Regions from separate parts of the Homo sapiens genome. Here regions 1, 2 and 4 are each reported to be linked to region 3. Evidence: microRNA targets listed by miRTarBase, many of them from high-throughput screens and not tested one by one. Region 3 holds a microRNA gene; each other region holds the end of a gene's coding sequence.

Evidence for each region. Region 3 holds the annotated microRNA hsa-miR-940 (AAGGCAGGGCCCCCGCUCCCC, at 2,347-2,367, shown strand). A microRNA usually pairs through its seed, bases 2 to 8, with sites in the 3' UTR of a target mRNA and lowers its output. Matches are read on the target gene's strand: a 7mer-m8 pairs with bases 2 to 8, a 7mer-A1 pairs with bases 2 to 7 and ends in A, and an 8mer does both.
Region 1: miRTarBase lists SYT7 as a target of hsa-miR-940. Seed matches in the 3' UTR shown: 7mer-m8 at 2,091-2,097.
Region 2: miRTarBase lists CYP4A11 as a target of hsa-miR-940. Seed matches in the 3' UTR shown: 7mer-m8 at 2,508-2,514, 7mer-m8 at 1,791-1,797 and 7mer-m8 at 1,745-1,751.
Region 4: miRTarBase lists CCDC125 as a target of hsa-miR-940. Seed matches in the 3' UTR shown: 7mer-m8 at 2,715-2,721, 7mer-m8 at 2,580-2,586 and 7mer-m8 at 1,514-1,520.

Annotation. Positions count from the first base shown.
Region 1 is chr11:61,515,697-61,519,654 of GRCh38, reverse strand. SYT7 (synaptotagmin 7) reads left to right here. Exons shown (of 13, transcript NM_001365809.2): 13 at 924-3,958. The coding sequence ends at 1,028. Among named protein-coding and RNA genes, the nearest start is that of LRRC10B, 8.9 kb to the right of the region's middle.
Region 2 is chr1:46,927,502-46,930,501 of GRCh38, forward strand. It overlaps CYP4A11 (cytochrome P450 family 4 subfamily A member 11), which reads right to left. Exons shown (of 12, transcript NM_000778.4): 12 at 1,687-2,809. The coding sequence ends at 2,614. Among named protein-coding and RNA genes, the nearest start is that of CYP4A11, 12 kb to the right of the region's middle.
Region 3 is chr16:2,269,460-2,273,417 of GRCh38, forward strand. MIR940 (microRNA 940) reads left to right here and starts at 2,288; the gene lies at 2,288-2,381. MIR3677HG (MIR3677 and MIR940 host gene) reads left to right here. Exons shown (of 3, transcript NR_132988.1): 2 at 2,217-2,432; 3 at 3,528-3,613. MIR3677 (microRNA 3677) reads left to right here and starts at 1,254; the gene lies at 1,254-1,313.
Region 4 is chr5:69,279,750-69,283,707 of GRCh38, forward strand. CCDC125 (coiled-coil domain containing 125) reads right to left here. Exons shown (of 12, transcript NM_176816.5): 12 at 426-3,285. The coding sequence ends at 2,980. Among named protein-coding and RNA genes, the nearest start is that of CDK7, 47 kb to the left of the region's middle.

The DNA.
Region 1 (3,958 bases), not on the chromosome of region 3:
GTGAACTAGACTCCGGCCGTTATTTGTATTTCACCAGTCTTTCCGTTAATGTCCTCCTTCTGTCCCAGCATCCAATCCAGGACACCACATTGCATTTAATAGGCATGTCTCCCCTGTCCCCTCTGGCCCTTGACAGTTTCTCAGTCTTTCCCATTCTCTATGATCTTAACGGTCTTAAGGAATACTGGCCGGGTGTCCTATAGAAGGCCCCATGTACCTGTTTTTTCTCCAATGCTCATACTCTTAATCACCCCCAAGTCCCAAAGCTGAGGTCAGCTGGGCCAATCCTGGGGGTTCCGGAGGGATTCATGCATGCAGCCGGGTGAGGCTGCGAAGCAGGATTAGGCCGGTAGCATAGAGCTCCAAAGACCTGGATTTCAATCCCTCTGCACCACTTATAAACCCTGTGACTGTGGGTAAGTCTCTTAACTCTTCGTACCTTAGTTTCCCCATCTGAAAAATGGAGATAATCATATAATCCTACCTCACAGTTGTAGGATTTGATGATCTATGTGTATGAAGTCCCTAGCTCAGTACTCACATGTAGCAAGTGCCCAGGAGTTGGGAATGATTATAATTCAGGGGGGCTGGACATCACCCAACAGATAGGGCAGGGAAGGCCATGGAGACAAGCTGCCTCCAACCCCACCTTCCAGACCCCACTGCAAAATAGGTTGGCAGTCTAATTCCGAGAGGCCTGGCGTGCCCAGGCTTGGGGGTGTGGGGGTAGACAACCAGGAAAATAGATCAGGCTGACTGGGGGAGGGAGGAGAGCGCCTCTGTGGGGTAGGTTGTCACAGCATGTGGAGGCTGGGGGGCCACAGGCTAGGGTATCATGGTGGAGTTGGGGTGTCACCCCTGTGGGGGAAAGGGCCAGTGCCCTGGAGCCTGTGCCGATGCCATCGTCTCCCCTTTCTCCCCAGATCTACCTGTCCTGGAAGAGCGGGCCAGGGGAGGTGAAGCACTGGAAGGACATGATTGCCCGTCCCCGGCAGCCCGTGGCCCAGTGGCACCAGCTGAAGGCCTGAGTGGGGCCAAGGGAGGCCCAGGGGGCCGAGGGCCCAGGTCCCCATCATGCCCTCACCACTTTATGCACAACGCCCGGCCTGAGCCCCCTGCCATAGGGAGGGGAGGACCCTGAGGGCTCAGCCAGGGAGGGGTCCCAGGACTCAACTGGGCCCCGTTTCTAGGAAGTACCAGCCCCATCCCCCACAGTCCAGCTCCGGGGAAGGGGCTCTGGGAGGCATTTTCCTGCTTTGCCCCTTTTCTTCCTGACTTACTAATACTAAAGAAGTTGGGGGAGCTCGAGAGCCAGACGGCCAGACAGGCAGACCCCTCCAGAGGCCCGCCAGGTGGGCATGGTCCCCCATTTTCTTTAAGGCAGCACCTGGAGTGGAGAGAGGCCACTCCCTCTCCAGCCCCCGATGTGGACCCGGGGAGGGGAGGCTGAGGCGTTTGGCCCCGGCCTGGCCAGGAGAGGCCCATCCCCAGGGCAGTTTCAGGTGCCGGCTGGGCCCTGAATGTCGAGGATAGTATATAGCCCGCTCCTGGGTCCTGGAGCTGTGGCCCTTTGTACTCGTGTTGTGTCCATTGTGTGTGTGCGTGGGGACAGAGGCCTGGAAATGCGGAGGACTATACAGAGAAGGCAGGTTTTGTGAAGGCCAGGCAGGGTTGGAGGCCGGGGGTGTGAGAGGAGAGGCCCATAGGGCTGAGTGGGGTCGGGTGAGGCAGAGGTCAGAAACAGAAGAGCTGCAGTTGCTGGAGCTGGGCTGAGAACTGGGCTGCCTCCTGCCATCCCCCCGTCTCCTCCCCTTCTCCCCTTGGTGCCCCCCTCTGCTCAGAATCTGAAGTAGTTCCCTCCTCAGCAATTTCATCTCTTGAACACTGACTCACACCTTTTAGGCACCTACTGTGTGCATAGCATTCCACCAGGACTCATCTCCCTTCCTTCTCAGGGGGTCCCGAGCCCCGACTAGCTTTGCCCTAACTCCTTCATCAAAAGACCCCCCGCCAGCTTCCCACACCTCATACGCAGCCACATCTGCCCTATTCTCCATGCTTTCCAGCTTGCCTGCCCTTCCTCATCTCTCCCTGCCTGTGCAGACCTCCACCCTTCTTTCCTCCACCCCTCCATCCCCCAATGCTTGTAGACCTTCCATTCATTCCGTCTCATCGTGCGTGGTCTCTGATCGTCCATCACCTGACCTTCTCCAGGACTGTCTTCTCACCCTTCCCCACTCCCTGGTCCCCGGGAGCAGCTCCTTCTGCCCGACTCACTCACAGTGCAGGGAAAGGAGGCAGGGAAAAGACCAGGATTCTGTGAGTTCTGAGGTTGCCACACACAAAGAAGCTGTGGTTTCTCTGCCTCGGCCACTGATGAGACTAAAACTGGCTTCCCCTTGGAGACGGCAGATTTCAGGCTGATCCCTGCTTAAGCCCTCTCATCCCCACGCTGGTCCTGGTATTGATACAAGACCCAGCTGGTGACAAAGCCTCCAATCCTGGGGGTCCACGAGCCTGGGCCTGACATTCCCAGAACTACCGCCAGGTGGCGCCAGGCCCCCACAGTCTGTGGCCGTGGTCTTAGCCCCCAGTTCCACTCTGGATGGGCCTGTGACACCCCAAAGAGAAGAAGGGGACTCTGGATAGGGTCCCCACATCCAGGGCGTGGGGAGACCATTGGCATTTGGGAACCATTTTCCTTCGAACGGCTTCCCCTTGAGCTGAGCATTCTGCTTGCTGCAGTAGACGGGTCGCCTTTTGCCCATACCGAAATTTTCTGAAATTAAATCGCACACCCCCACCATTTCCTCTCCCTGGGATCTGGAGGAACATCATACATAGTAGGTGAATCGTTTTGTAGAGTGAAGAATGCTAATGTAAAGCAAATAGTCACCCACGTTCCTTGTAAATCCAAATGTTTCTATATTGTAGCTTTGCTTAAAATGGGGTCGGCCCCAACTGCATCCTCCTCTTTGGCGGGCTGGGGAGCGGCCCCCAGCCGGGACGGGAGGGCAGCGACCCCGAGGCCTCGTGGACGTGGGAGAGAGTGTGGTGGGAAGTCTTGAGCGGAGGAGGGGATCTGCCCTTCTCCACTCCTCTCTTGGATCCGCCTCGGTTTCCTGTCCCCCCACCACCCGCCTGCCCCGCGGAAGACCGCCCAGTGAGCCAGCCCCCACCTTCCAGGCGCCTTCGCCCTGGGGATCCAACCAACTTGTATCGAGTGGGCGGGGCAACGGCTCCCCATTTTTCCCGAGCCCCGCCCACAGAGCTCTTAGCCAATCCTATGCAGAGAGCATCTCCTGGCAGGGGTCTCTTCCCAACCAGACCCCACCCAGGCACATTAGCGACCAGGCTTGGGCTTCCCCAGCGCCCCACCACCACCACGTGCAGGTGGAGCTCTGGGATGCTATGTTGGGGCGGCAAGCGGTGGGCCGAGGGCCGGGTAGGCTAGCACGGGAGGTAAGGGTGGTATGGGATGGGGCGGGGGCGGTCTAGGGCAATAGGAGAGCAGAGAATGGGGGAACTTGAGGGTGGGGGGAGGGCACCGGAGCCTTGCCACCATCCCAGGACTTTGGGCAAGTCACCCGCACTCCCTGGGCCTCGGTTTCCCCATCTGTAAAATGATGGTAATAATACTTCACCTACCTCATAGGGGAGGTTGTGAGGCCACCATCACCTGACCTGGGGGTCAAGGCAGGAGGACTCCGAAGGTGCTACCCGTGAGCAAAGTGTAATTACCGAATCCTGACTGCAAGGCCCACCTGCCCCTCCCCCACAGAGCCTCCAGAGCTAGCTGAGGCCAACGCAGGCCCATCCGTCTCTTCACTCTGTCGCAGGCCCTTTCATGGGCTTCGTCTGCCATCTTTGTGGGTGCCCTAGACTTAGTCCTTATCTTGTCCTGGTTTCCTTTCTTGTGACCATCTCCCCATGAAAGTGCTGTACAAATTCCACCCGC
Region 2 (3,000 bases), not on the chromosome of region 3:
GGTGGCCAGCCAGAGAGGCAGACGACAACCAAGAAGTTGTGCTGTTGGGAAGGAGCTGCTTGGGGTCTGACAGCCTCTTCCACCAGCCAGACCCATTTGCCTACCTGGGCTCCTCCCACCCCTGACTGGACAGCTGCCCACTCCATGAGCTTCCAGAGAAGCCTGCAGGTTCCGTATGTGAGGAAGGTTGACAGGTACCTGGTGACGTTGCTAGGCTGGGGTCTCTTTCTACACCTCACTGGGGCTGTGGATAGCTGAATTTACAAGATCCTCATGACAGACCAGGCCTTTGAGGCTTTCTTGCTCAGCTCAGTGCAGCCTCACTATAGCTGGGATGTGGGATGTTCCCAACCAAACTCCTGAAGCCTTGATCCCCAACACAGTAGTGTTGGGAGGTGGGTCCTAGTGGGAGATATTTAGATCGTGGAGACAGATCCTTTATGAAGAGATTAGTGCCCCCTTCCACCTCACAGGCTTGAGTTTTAGCTGTATCTGGAATGGACAGGTTTCCAAGACATCGGGATCAAAACAGAGTCTTGCTTCCTTGGTCTCTCTCCTGCTTCCTCTGTCACCATGCAATCTCAGCATATGCCACTCCCCTTTTGCTTTCTGCCATGTGTGGAAGCTGCATGAGGCCTTCATCTGATTTAGCTGCCAAAACTTAAACTTTTCAGCCACCAGATCATGAGCAAAATAAACTTCTTTTCTAGATCAATTACCCAGCCTTGGGTATTCAGTTACAGTAACACAAAACACAGCAAGGCAGGCCCTTAGCTCAGCCTTGCTGTGATTCATCTTGAATCTAAATCTTGAATGGAATGGAGGCCTGGAGTCTTTTCCCTACAGGTGTGAGCTTCTCCCTCTGATCTCCTAGATAAATATCGTTTGTCTAAACTCAGCTACCATGGGAGCCTCAGGAGCTGGAGAGGGTGTGGGCACCAGGGGAGACATGGTATGAGGCTGTGTGCAGGGGGATGGATCAAACCAGGCCCTGCTAGGGTTCTGGCACAATTGGGCACACCTCATCTCCATTTTCCCTCTTCAGTAGGGATTTATCTCCCTGCCTTAGTGTCTCCTCTTCTAACCCTATCACCTTCCATGTGAAGCTGGACAAAGCATGCAAGCTTGTGAACCTTATTCTAGAGAAGAGGGAAGATAGAGGGATTGTCTGGCTGACAATCACGTATGTAGGTAGGTAGCATACAGGAGAGATTTAGATGGACACATTGGATGACAATCCGGTAGGGGCTGTGCTAGGATGAACAATGGGTCTCCATGTTGTCCACATCCTAATTCATGAAACCTGTGATTGTGGGACTGCATATGTCACAATGGACTTTTGAGTAAGTAACGGATCTTGAGGTGGTGACATTATCCTTGATTATCTTAATAAGCTTGATGTAACTAACCACAAGGGTCCTTATAAGAGGGAAAGAGATGTGAAGACAGTCACAGAGAGAGAGATTTGAAGATGCCATTGGCTTTAAAGAGGAAGGAGGGGACCGTACCAAGGAATGCAAAAAAGGCAGCTCTGGAGCTGAAAAGCCAAGGGGCAGGGCTCTCCCTGAAACCTTCTGGGGGTGGGGGTCTGGCCCTCTCCAGAACTTGTTTTAATTCAGTGAAACCCATATATCTGACTTTGACCTCCATAACTGTAAGAGAATAAAAGTCGTTATTTAAAATCACTGAGATTGTGATAGTTTATTACAGCAGTAATAGGAAACTAATATAGGAACAGACAAGCAGGCAGGAAGAAGGAGACAGGTGTATGGGCAGACAGTCTGGAGGGCAGGCAGGAGTTTGGGAGGTGGGTGGAGATTCAGGGATGTTGGGGTGTTCAGACCCAACACCAGGTCGTGGGGGTGACAAAGTCCGGCAGAGTCAAAGCAGTGAGAAAAGACAGTTTGAGAGAGAAAGTGGGTCCAGGGCGCCAAAGCTAAGGATGGAGGCTGTGAAGGCCCCGAGCTCTGGAAGTGCAGATTATTTATTGGTGATCAAACAAAGAAACAGGTGGTGAGAATGTGGGGGTCGAAAGGGCATGTTGCATTAAGCACATGATTTACAGCTGTGACGGTTTAGCATCTGCTCTGCTACTTGAGATAATGGAGAGCAGGTTCTTTTAACTCAAGATACAATTGATCCTGGGAGAGCAAGGAGCGAGGAGGCAGCAAGTTCAGACACATTCCAGAGCCACGAGCCCTGGATTCTATCCAAGCCACGAGGGGTTTTATGCCCCGGGCTTAGATTATGGTGCGTCAGGGTAGCCTTCCACCCTTCAGCACAGAGCTTGGTGTTCCAAAGGCCACAAGGGGTTTTAGACCCTGGATCCTGGACATGATCCAAGACTCTTTTACATTATGTCAGACATGCAAGCTCGGCCTCAGCTTCTCCCAACACTCAGCTTTTCTCCCAACAAGAGATACAGGTGGGTAGGAGACAGGTAGACAAGCAGGTAGGGAGCCTGGAGAAAGGTGAGAGAGAGAAGGGCAGGCAGACTGGGGGACAGCAGGCAGGTGGGAAGAAGGGAAGGTGGGCAGACAGAAAACAGGATATGGGCAGACAGGAAGGGGACAGAAGCGGGGGTCAGGAAGACAGGACGGCAGGTGGAGGCCCTCAAAGCTGGTCCTTGTCTTCACAAGGGTTAGGGAGCCTCCTGAGACGCAGGTGGATTCCATTTTTGGATTTCAACACAAGTCGTGCAATGGGGATGGGGATCCTGGTGGGATCAGGCAGCAGCTCAAAGCGGAGCAGGGTCAGGGCCGTGGCCACCTTCAGCTCGTTCATGGCAAATTGTTTCCCGATGCAGTTCCTGGGCCAGGTGGAGATAATGAATTGAGAAGTGTCCTCAGGCCCCATTCTGATCTGAGCAGGTTTTGGCCCCTGACCCCAGCCCTGAGCTGGACATTCAGTGCCCAACCTCATGTGTCCAGCCCCTGCACACATACAGCCCATGGACACTTCTACCCCGTCCTGGCTTCACACTATCCCAATCCTTGGACA
Region 3 (3,958 bases):
GCTGTGCCTGTCAGGCAGTCGTTGCCCTGTGGTTATTTGTGGAGGGATTGACGGTGCGCTGAGCTTCAGACTTTGTCTGAACAGCTTCGTGGCAGCAAGGAAGGGAGAAGGGAACAGATCCAAGCCGATCTTTGGGAGGAGAGAACCAGCATGACTTGGAGACTTTAGATGTCAGAGCAAAGGACAGGGTGCAGCTTGGTGACCCGGAGTGGGTGGGTGGGTGAATGGATGGATAGATAGTGGGGATGTGGTCTGCCATCACTGCCCTCTTCCCTGTGTGGGAAGCCAGCTCTTGGTGACTTCCTGCCGAGACCCACTCCCTCTGGCCCTGTCCGAGGGTGTCAAGTGTGCCCTTGACCCTTCACCCTGGGCTAAGGGATGTCCAAGGAGTTGGGGACAAAGGCAGCTAGGAGGAGGAGCTACCTCCCGAGTCTGCTGCAGTAAGTCACCAGTGTGTTCCTGTGGGTGGAGGCTGGCAGGCCCATCAGTCTGGTTTGGGTACCCGTTGGATTTGGGTTTGATGACATGTAAAGTGAGTTAGAGTCTCTGCATTACTGTCACACCTGCTGTGCCCAGGCATGGAAGATTAAGTGGAACAGAGGGGCCGCCCCCCTGCTGAAGGGGCCCCAGAGTCGGCGCTAGGGGAGGGGGCAGCCTCGGTGGTCCAGGCAGGCATAGGCGGAATTCTCTGAGGTGGCATTGGAGTCCAGTGGTCAGAGGTGCTAAAAGGCCCCAAACCTAGAGCCCATGCCCAGGGCCCCACTGACACCTGGTGGGCAGGGGCAGCCTGGTGACCCCACATGACATGGGTGGGCGTGACGCAGCACCAGCTGGGCCGACAGCCCTCCCCCTGCTGGTTTTTAATGCTCTGCAGTAATGTCATTTGGCCTGCGAATAAGCTTTCACACATTTTATATTAAATCTACAAGTATGATTTATTCAGGCACTTACGAATTTAATCAAATTTGTTTCTAAATATTACTGATTTTTGTTATCAAATGTGCCATCAGCTGTTGAGCTTTGAGAATTGAGCATCCTGGCTTTTGCCATTTTGAGGATCAGCAGAAGCATGTCTGGAAGAAATGTGAGAAAATAAAACTCAGGAGCCTACCCCCACCCTGCCCTTCCAGGAGCTCAGCCCCAGAGCCAGGCTGCTAAGGCCATGGAGGCTGAGGGCAGTGGAGCTGGGGTTTCTGGAGCCTCAGGGGCCCTGGTTTGCTGGAAGGGCAGGCAGGGCTTCATGGAGGGCATTAGGCAGTGGCCAGAGCCCTGCAGTGCTGGGCATGGGCTTCTCGTGGGCTCTGGCCACGGCCCTGAGCTCCTCCCCTTACCTTCCCAGAGCGGAGGGTCACCTGCTGAGCTGGGCACGGGCTTCTCGTGGGCTCTGGCCACGGCCCTGAGCTCCTCCCCTTGCCTTCCCAGAGCGGAGGGTCACCTGCTGACAGTTTGGGGCGGCTCTGTCTTTGAGAGCATGCCCTCATGAAGGCAGAATGTCCTCCCTGCCTCCATCCTCTGTGGCCCGGTGGCTCCTGCAGTGCCTGCCCTCAGAGGCTGGTGGCCTGGGACACAGGGATGAGGATGGGCTTGGTGGTGCTGCAGGTCACAGTGGGTCATGAAGGAGCTTTGGGGGTGTTGCATTCTCTGGTAAAGCACAGCAAGGGAGCCCTTTTACCCACTACTAAAACCTGGCTCTGCACTGAGGCCATGCGCAGCCCAGTCAGGTGGACGAGGGGGTAACGACTGGACCGTGGGGAGGCATCAGAGGAGGAGCTGCTGAGAGGCGGGTCACCACAGCCTGGTGCCTGTCTGGAGAGGGTGGGGCTGGGGGAGGTGCTGGCCAGGTCCATGGGGGTGGCCAGGCTGGGTCTGAAAGGGCCTTGCGCTGGTGTGGGGTGAGCTTGGTCTGTTGGGAGAGTATGCAGTTCATTGGGGCCTCCCTGGCTCCAGGTTTGCATGTCTGAGGAGTGGGTATCATCAGGGCCTGGGGCCTCTCCAGTGGGCATGTCTGAACTCTCCCAGGGTTGGGAGCCTGTGCTCATCACAAGCTCAAAGCACTCCATTTCTGCTACCATGAAGTCAAGGATGGTGACTGTGAGCCGCCTGGGACCTGAGCTGCCTGGGACTGTGACTGAGGCACCCGGGGTGCCTCTTAGGGCCTTGGGTTTGGGCCCATGGCTAGATGAGCCTTGGTGATTCTGTGGTATTGCCTGGGCCAGGTGGACCCAGGGGCAGCTGCGGCTAGTCCATTTGGAGCTCCTTCAAGCCGAAGCATCCAACACCAGTGTCTGTGAGGTGTGGGCCCGGCCCCAGGAGCGGGGCCTGGGCAGCCCCGTGTGTTGAGGAAGGAAGGCAGGGCCCCCGCTCCCCGGGCCTGACCCCACTGCTTCAGCCCCCTCCTGCCTGCCTACAGCCTGGCCTCGAGGGCCCATCAGGTGAGGGGACCCCACCTGCACCACCCCGTCCTACCTCCTGGAGGAGGCCTTGCCCCTGACAGGCAGCCTCCAGCCCTCCCACCCTGATCCCTGTGTGGGATGGCCAGAGCATGCCCAGCATGCTGGGGTTCGGCGGTGGGGGGCATCTGGAGGGAGGGACATGTCAGTTCGGGGAGGGATGAGCAGCCTAAGTGACTGCAGTGCTGGGCCATCTCCTGCATGGTGGAGCTCCCCTCGAGCCGCCTGTCTGCAGGGGGCTCTGGCCAGTAGTGCAGCCGGGCAGGGTCTGTACGGCACAGGCTGCACCAGCCTCCATGCAGACCAGTCTGTGTGGGAGTGGGGGTCTCAGAGGGCCCAGCCGGCCTATGCCATGAGCATGGTGCTGGCCCAGAGGGGGAGCTGAACAGCAGCTGGGTCGGTGCGTTACCTGGTGGGGCAGCAGACAGCAGCTGCCCTGGCTGGGGTTCAAGCCCCGGGCTGGCCTGGTGGAATCCCCTCTCCGTCACCCCCAGGTTCTGTTCTTGCAGGTGTCAGGCCTGGGGCCTTGAGACAGACCTGCAGTCTCCACCACAGCCACAGTGGGTGGGGTCTGGGTCCTCACGGAGGTGATCCTCCACCCCCACACCTACCTTGTGCATGGCAGTGGTGTCTCCTGGAGCTGGTGAGACCCCACCTCACTCAGGAAACCCCCCAGACGCCCCCAGGCAGAAGTGGCCATACTCCAGGGCCTGCATCCCTGTGCCCCACAGTGCGCCCTGGCCGGTTGGTTGTAGGAACTCAGAAAAGCAAAGCAAACAGGATGGTTCCCTGCTGGACACATTACATTCCCTGCTGGACACATTTCTATTGCAGATCTTTAGTCCAGGATTCCAGGGTAGCCAAGGTCACCTGAGTCCTGGGGACTCTGGGCCTGGTCTCTGAAAGCAGCCAGTAAGACAGAGATGGGAAACCCAGCAAGATGGAGTGAGCCAAGGGCACAGTTGGGTCCAGGCGCAGCAGGGAGCTGCCTGGGGGTGACACACACTTGACGGAGGCCACTGCACACACCCTACCCCGGCCTGAACTTGAGCACTTCCTTTTTTTTTTTTTTTTTAGATGGAGTCTCACTGTAGTCCAGATGGAGTGCAATGGCGTGATCTCGGCTCACTGCAAGCTCCGCCTCCCCGGTTCACGCCATTCTCTTGCCTCAGCCTCCTGAGTAGCTGGGACTACAGGTGCCCGCCACCACACCCGGCTAATTTTTTTGTATTTTTAGTAGAGACGGGGTTTCACCGTGTTAGCCAGGATGGTCTTGATTTTTCGACTTCATGATCCGCCTGCCTCGGCCTCCCAAAGTGCTGGGATTACAGGCGTGAGCCACCATGCCCGGCCAAGCACTTCCTTGAACACAGAGGTGACCATGAGGAGGGAGGCGTGAACCAGGATGACGGGGCAGCAGATGGAGCCTGCCTCCCTGAGACCTCAGGTGACCGAGTGCTGGACTGCCTCCTCCTGCCTACATGGCTGAGAAATAAACTTCTTTTTCA
Region 4 (3,958 bases), not on the chromosome of region 3:
GCCAAAGGGATCTGAGGACACTCAAAATGTGTCTAACACGTGAGGCAGGATAGGAGTGTATTATTCCGTTCTCAAACTGCTATAAAGAATACTACCCAAGACTCAGTAATTTATAAAGGAAAGAGGTTTAATTGACTCATAGCTCCACATGGCTGGGCAGGCCTCAGGAAACTTACAATCCTGGCAGAAGGGGAAGCAGGCATGTTTTACATGGCAGCAGGAGAGACTACCATGTATAAAACCATTGGATCTCGTGAGAACTCACAATCATGAGAACAGCATGGGGGATACCACCCCCATGATCCAGTCACCTACCACCAAGTCCCTCCTTCAACATGTGGGAATTATGGGGATTACAATTCAAAATAAGACTTGGGTGGGGACACAGCCAAACCGTATCAGGTAGTCAAGGAAATGACCATTTTCTCATGACCATACAGCCAACACAATAAACCTCAGCATTCACATTGTAATTGAGCTCATTTAAGCAAAGCTATCTTCAGTAGGGACTTTCCCTTCTAGAGAGCATACACATTTTGATTTTACCTGTCCTCAAACTGATCCTTTGCACATGATAATAATAAAAAACACACCTCTAGGTGGAAATTTAAGATGCTACTGAGACATGTGGTGTATGAACAAGCATTAACAGCTACTGCACCTGTGCAGAGGACCACCCAGGACATGATTACTGCAACACCTCACCTCCTTATGAATAATAATGCAAAACTCCCATAAAGGGAGTTTCTCCAGCAATAATCAATGCTGTCTCACCCTTACGAGCAGCCGGCCCTGAATTCTCTCTCTCAGGTGTACTGTCTGTTCTGCACCTAACTTTCAAAATACTCCTTTTCTTTTGCAATAAATTATGCTGCATCTCCTTTGCTGTCTCATTTAAATTCTTTTAAACCAAGAAGACAAGAACTGAGGTATCACAACAGCTGTCAACACATGCATTTTGCTTTATTCATTTGCTTTATCTTATGGATCTCTCCATTTTGTAGAGTATTCCATTGTATAGCTGTACAGTAATTTAGATAAACTTTTGTATTGATAGCCTTTTCTTTTGGAGATGGGGGTCTCACTCTGTCACTCAGGCTGGAGTGCAGTGGCACAATCACAGCTCACTGCAGCCTCAAGCTCCTGGGCTCATGCCATCCTCCTGCCTCAGCCCCTGAGTAGCTGGGACAACAGGTGCATGCCACCATGCCTTGCCGAGTTTTTGTATAGATGGGGTTTCACCATGTTGCCCAGGCTGGTCTTGAACTCTGGACTGGTCTGGACTTGAGATTCAGACCAGATCTGTAAGCCACTGCACCCGGCCTTGATAGCCATTTGTTTTCATACACAGCAGCAATTAGTAGCCATTTAAGATATCTGTGCGCCAGCCTACAAGAAATACAAATGTACAGGGTAAAATCCTAGCTGGATCAAATATGAGCTTTGTAAATTTTTAAAAACTTTTTTATTGAGTTGTGGTTTATGCCTGTAATCCCAGCACTTTGAGAGGCTGAGGCAGGAGGATCCCTTGAGGCCAGGAGTTTGGCACCAGCCTGAGCAACACAGTGGGACCCTGTCTACACACACACCCCACCCCCACACACCCCAATTCACATACCACAAACAAAAAAACTCCTAGAAATCACCTTGGCTCAGGCAGCTTCTTCAGATTCCTGAGACCCCATTTCCTGGATCATCACAACCATCTCACAGGATGCAATGAAAAGAGCTGTTAAGCACTTTGTAGACTTGGCTACAAATCTGTGCAGATTTGGTTGCAAAATGTTACTACCCTGACAAGAAGCCATGAACGCAGCCGGCACTGACTCAATATACTTCTGCCAAGGTCCCACCATCAAAACTGTCTTATTGAAGTTAACTTAAGGAAATTGTTATTTCTAAACTTCATATGGTAAATGAAAAATACTGAACAAGGCAAATAAAACAAGATAAATGAATTCCAGAAATTAACATTCAGTCAGTCCTAGGTATTGTTACTTTTTAGAGCATTAAGATACATTGCTATATTGTTGATTTAGCCAAGCTAAGATCCCTATAGTCAATCAAAATAGTTAAATAATTTTTTGTTTTTCCCAAAAATCATTATTTTTTGTTTTAGGATGTTGGCAAACACTGTAATGTGTTTTTTTTTTTTTTTGAGACAGAGTTTCGCTCTTGTCGCCCAGGCTGGAGTGCAATGACACAGTCTCGGCTTACCACAACCCCCGCCTCCCAGGTTCAAGCGATTCTCCTACCTCAGCCTCCCAAGTAGCTGGGATTACAGGCATGCGCCACTAGGCCTAGCTAATTTTTTGTATTTTTAGTAGAGATGGGGTTTCTCCATGTTGGTCAGACTGGTCTTGAACTCCAGCCTCAGGTGACCCACCCACCTTGGCCTCCCAAAGTGCTGGGATTTATAAGCATGAGCCACCATGCCCAGCCTGTAATGTAATTTATAAATACAGTAATGTAATTTATAAATAAAATGTCAACACAGAATACTAATTTCTTGTAGAAAATGTAGAAAATAGGCTGGGTGTGGTGGCTCACGCCTGTAATCCCAGCACTTTCGGAGGCCAAGGCAGGCGGATCACTTGAGGTCAGGAGTTCAAGATCAGCCTGGCTAACATGGTAAAACCCCGTCTCTACTAAAAATACAAAAATTAGCTGGGCGTGGTGGCACATGCCTGTAATCCGAGTTACTCGGGAGGCTGAGGCAGGAGAATTGCTTGAACCGGGAGGCGGAGGTTGCAGTGAACCGAGATCACACCACTGCACTCCAACCTGGGTGACAGAGCAAGACTCCATCTCAAAAGAAGAAAAAGAAAATGTAGAAAATATTTGATTTAAGTGACCTCCTAAAATTTAGAAATACCTAGGAAACATACAACTTCTCAAGATGCAGCAAAATTTACAAAATCATTTTTCAAAGTATCTCGATATAAACAACTCTCAGTTCCAATTTCAACTGGCTTGTCTTTAAAATATGATACTTGATGGCAAAGAATGGGATCTTTTAAGAGTTCTATAGTTTGGATCTATTTGAGAGTGCTGGATTGAACAAATGCAGCCCACAGAATTTAAAATGCAGACACTTGAATGTATAGGATCACCCAAAACAGAGAATTCTGAAGTCTTACGCCAGGGGTTGTTGAAAGGGAAATTCTCTTTTATAGGATTTTTTTCTTTATTCTCGTTTGAAGCAGTGTCTTTGTCTTCCAATGCCCGAGCAAGCATGTAGCTAACTTTTCTTTGATGAGCCAAAGCTTCTTCTTTATCATTAAGCTGCATGCACAGAAATTAAACATGTACAAGTTAGTCAATAAATCACAGAATATATTCAGAGAAAGGAGTATTGTACTATTTTATCAAGTTATTCAACCCTAATATTCATACTGATCTGTCCATCAGTATGAATAAATTAGGTATCACCTGATCCCCAAACATTATACTACATGTTATTCATGAATCTTTTTTTTTTTTTTTTTGAGACGGAGTCTGGCTCTGTCACCCAGGCTGGAGTGCAGTGGCACTATCTCCACTCACTGCAAGCTCTGCCTCCCAGGTTCACACTATTCTCCTGCCTCAGCCTCCCAAGTAGCTGGGACCACAGGTGCCCGCCACCACACCCAGCTAATTTTTTGCATTTTTTAGTAGAGACGGGGTTTCACTGTGTTTGCCAGGATGGTCTGAATCTCCTGACCTTGTGATCAGCCCACCTTGGCCTCCCAAAGTGCTGGGATTACAGGCGTGAGCCACCGTGCCCGGCCAATTCTTTTTTTTTTTAAGACAGGGTCTGGCTCTGTTGCCCAGGCTGGAATGCAGTGATGCCATCTTGGCTCACTGCAGCCTCTGCCTCCCAGGCTCAAGTGATTCTTGGGCCTCACCCTCCCGAGTAGAGTAGCTGGGACTATAGGCGTGCACCACCACACCTTGCTAATTTTTGTAGGCTGGTCTC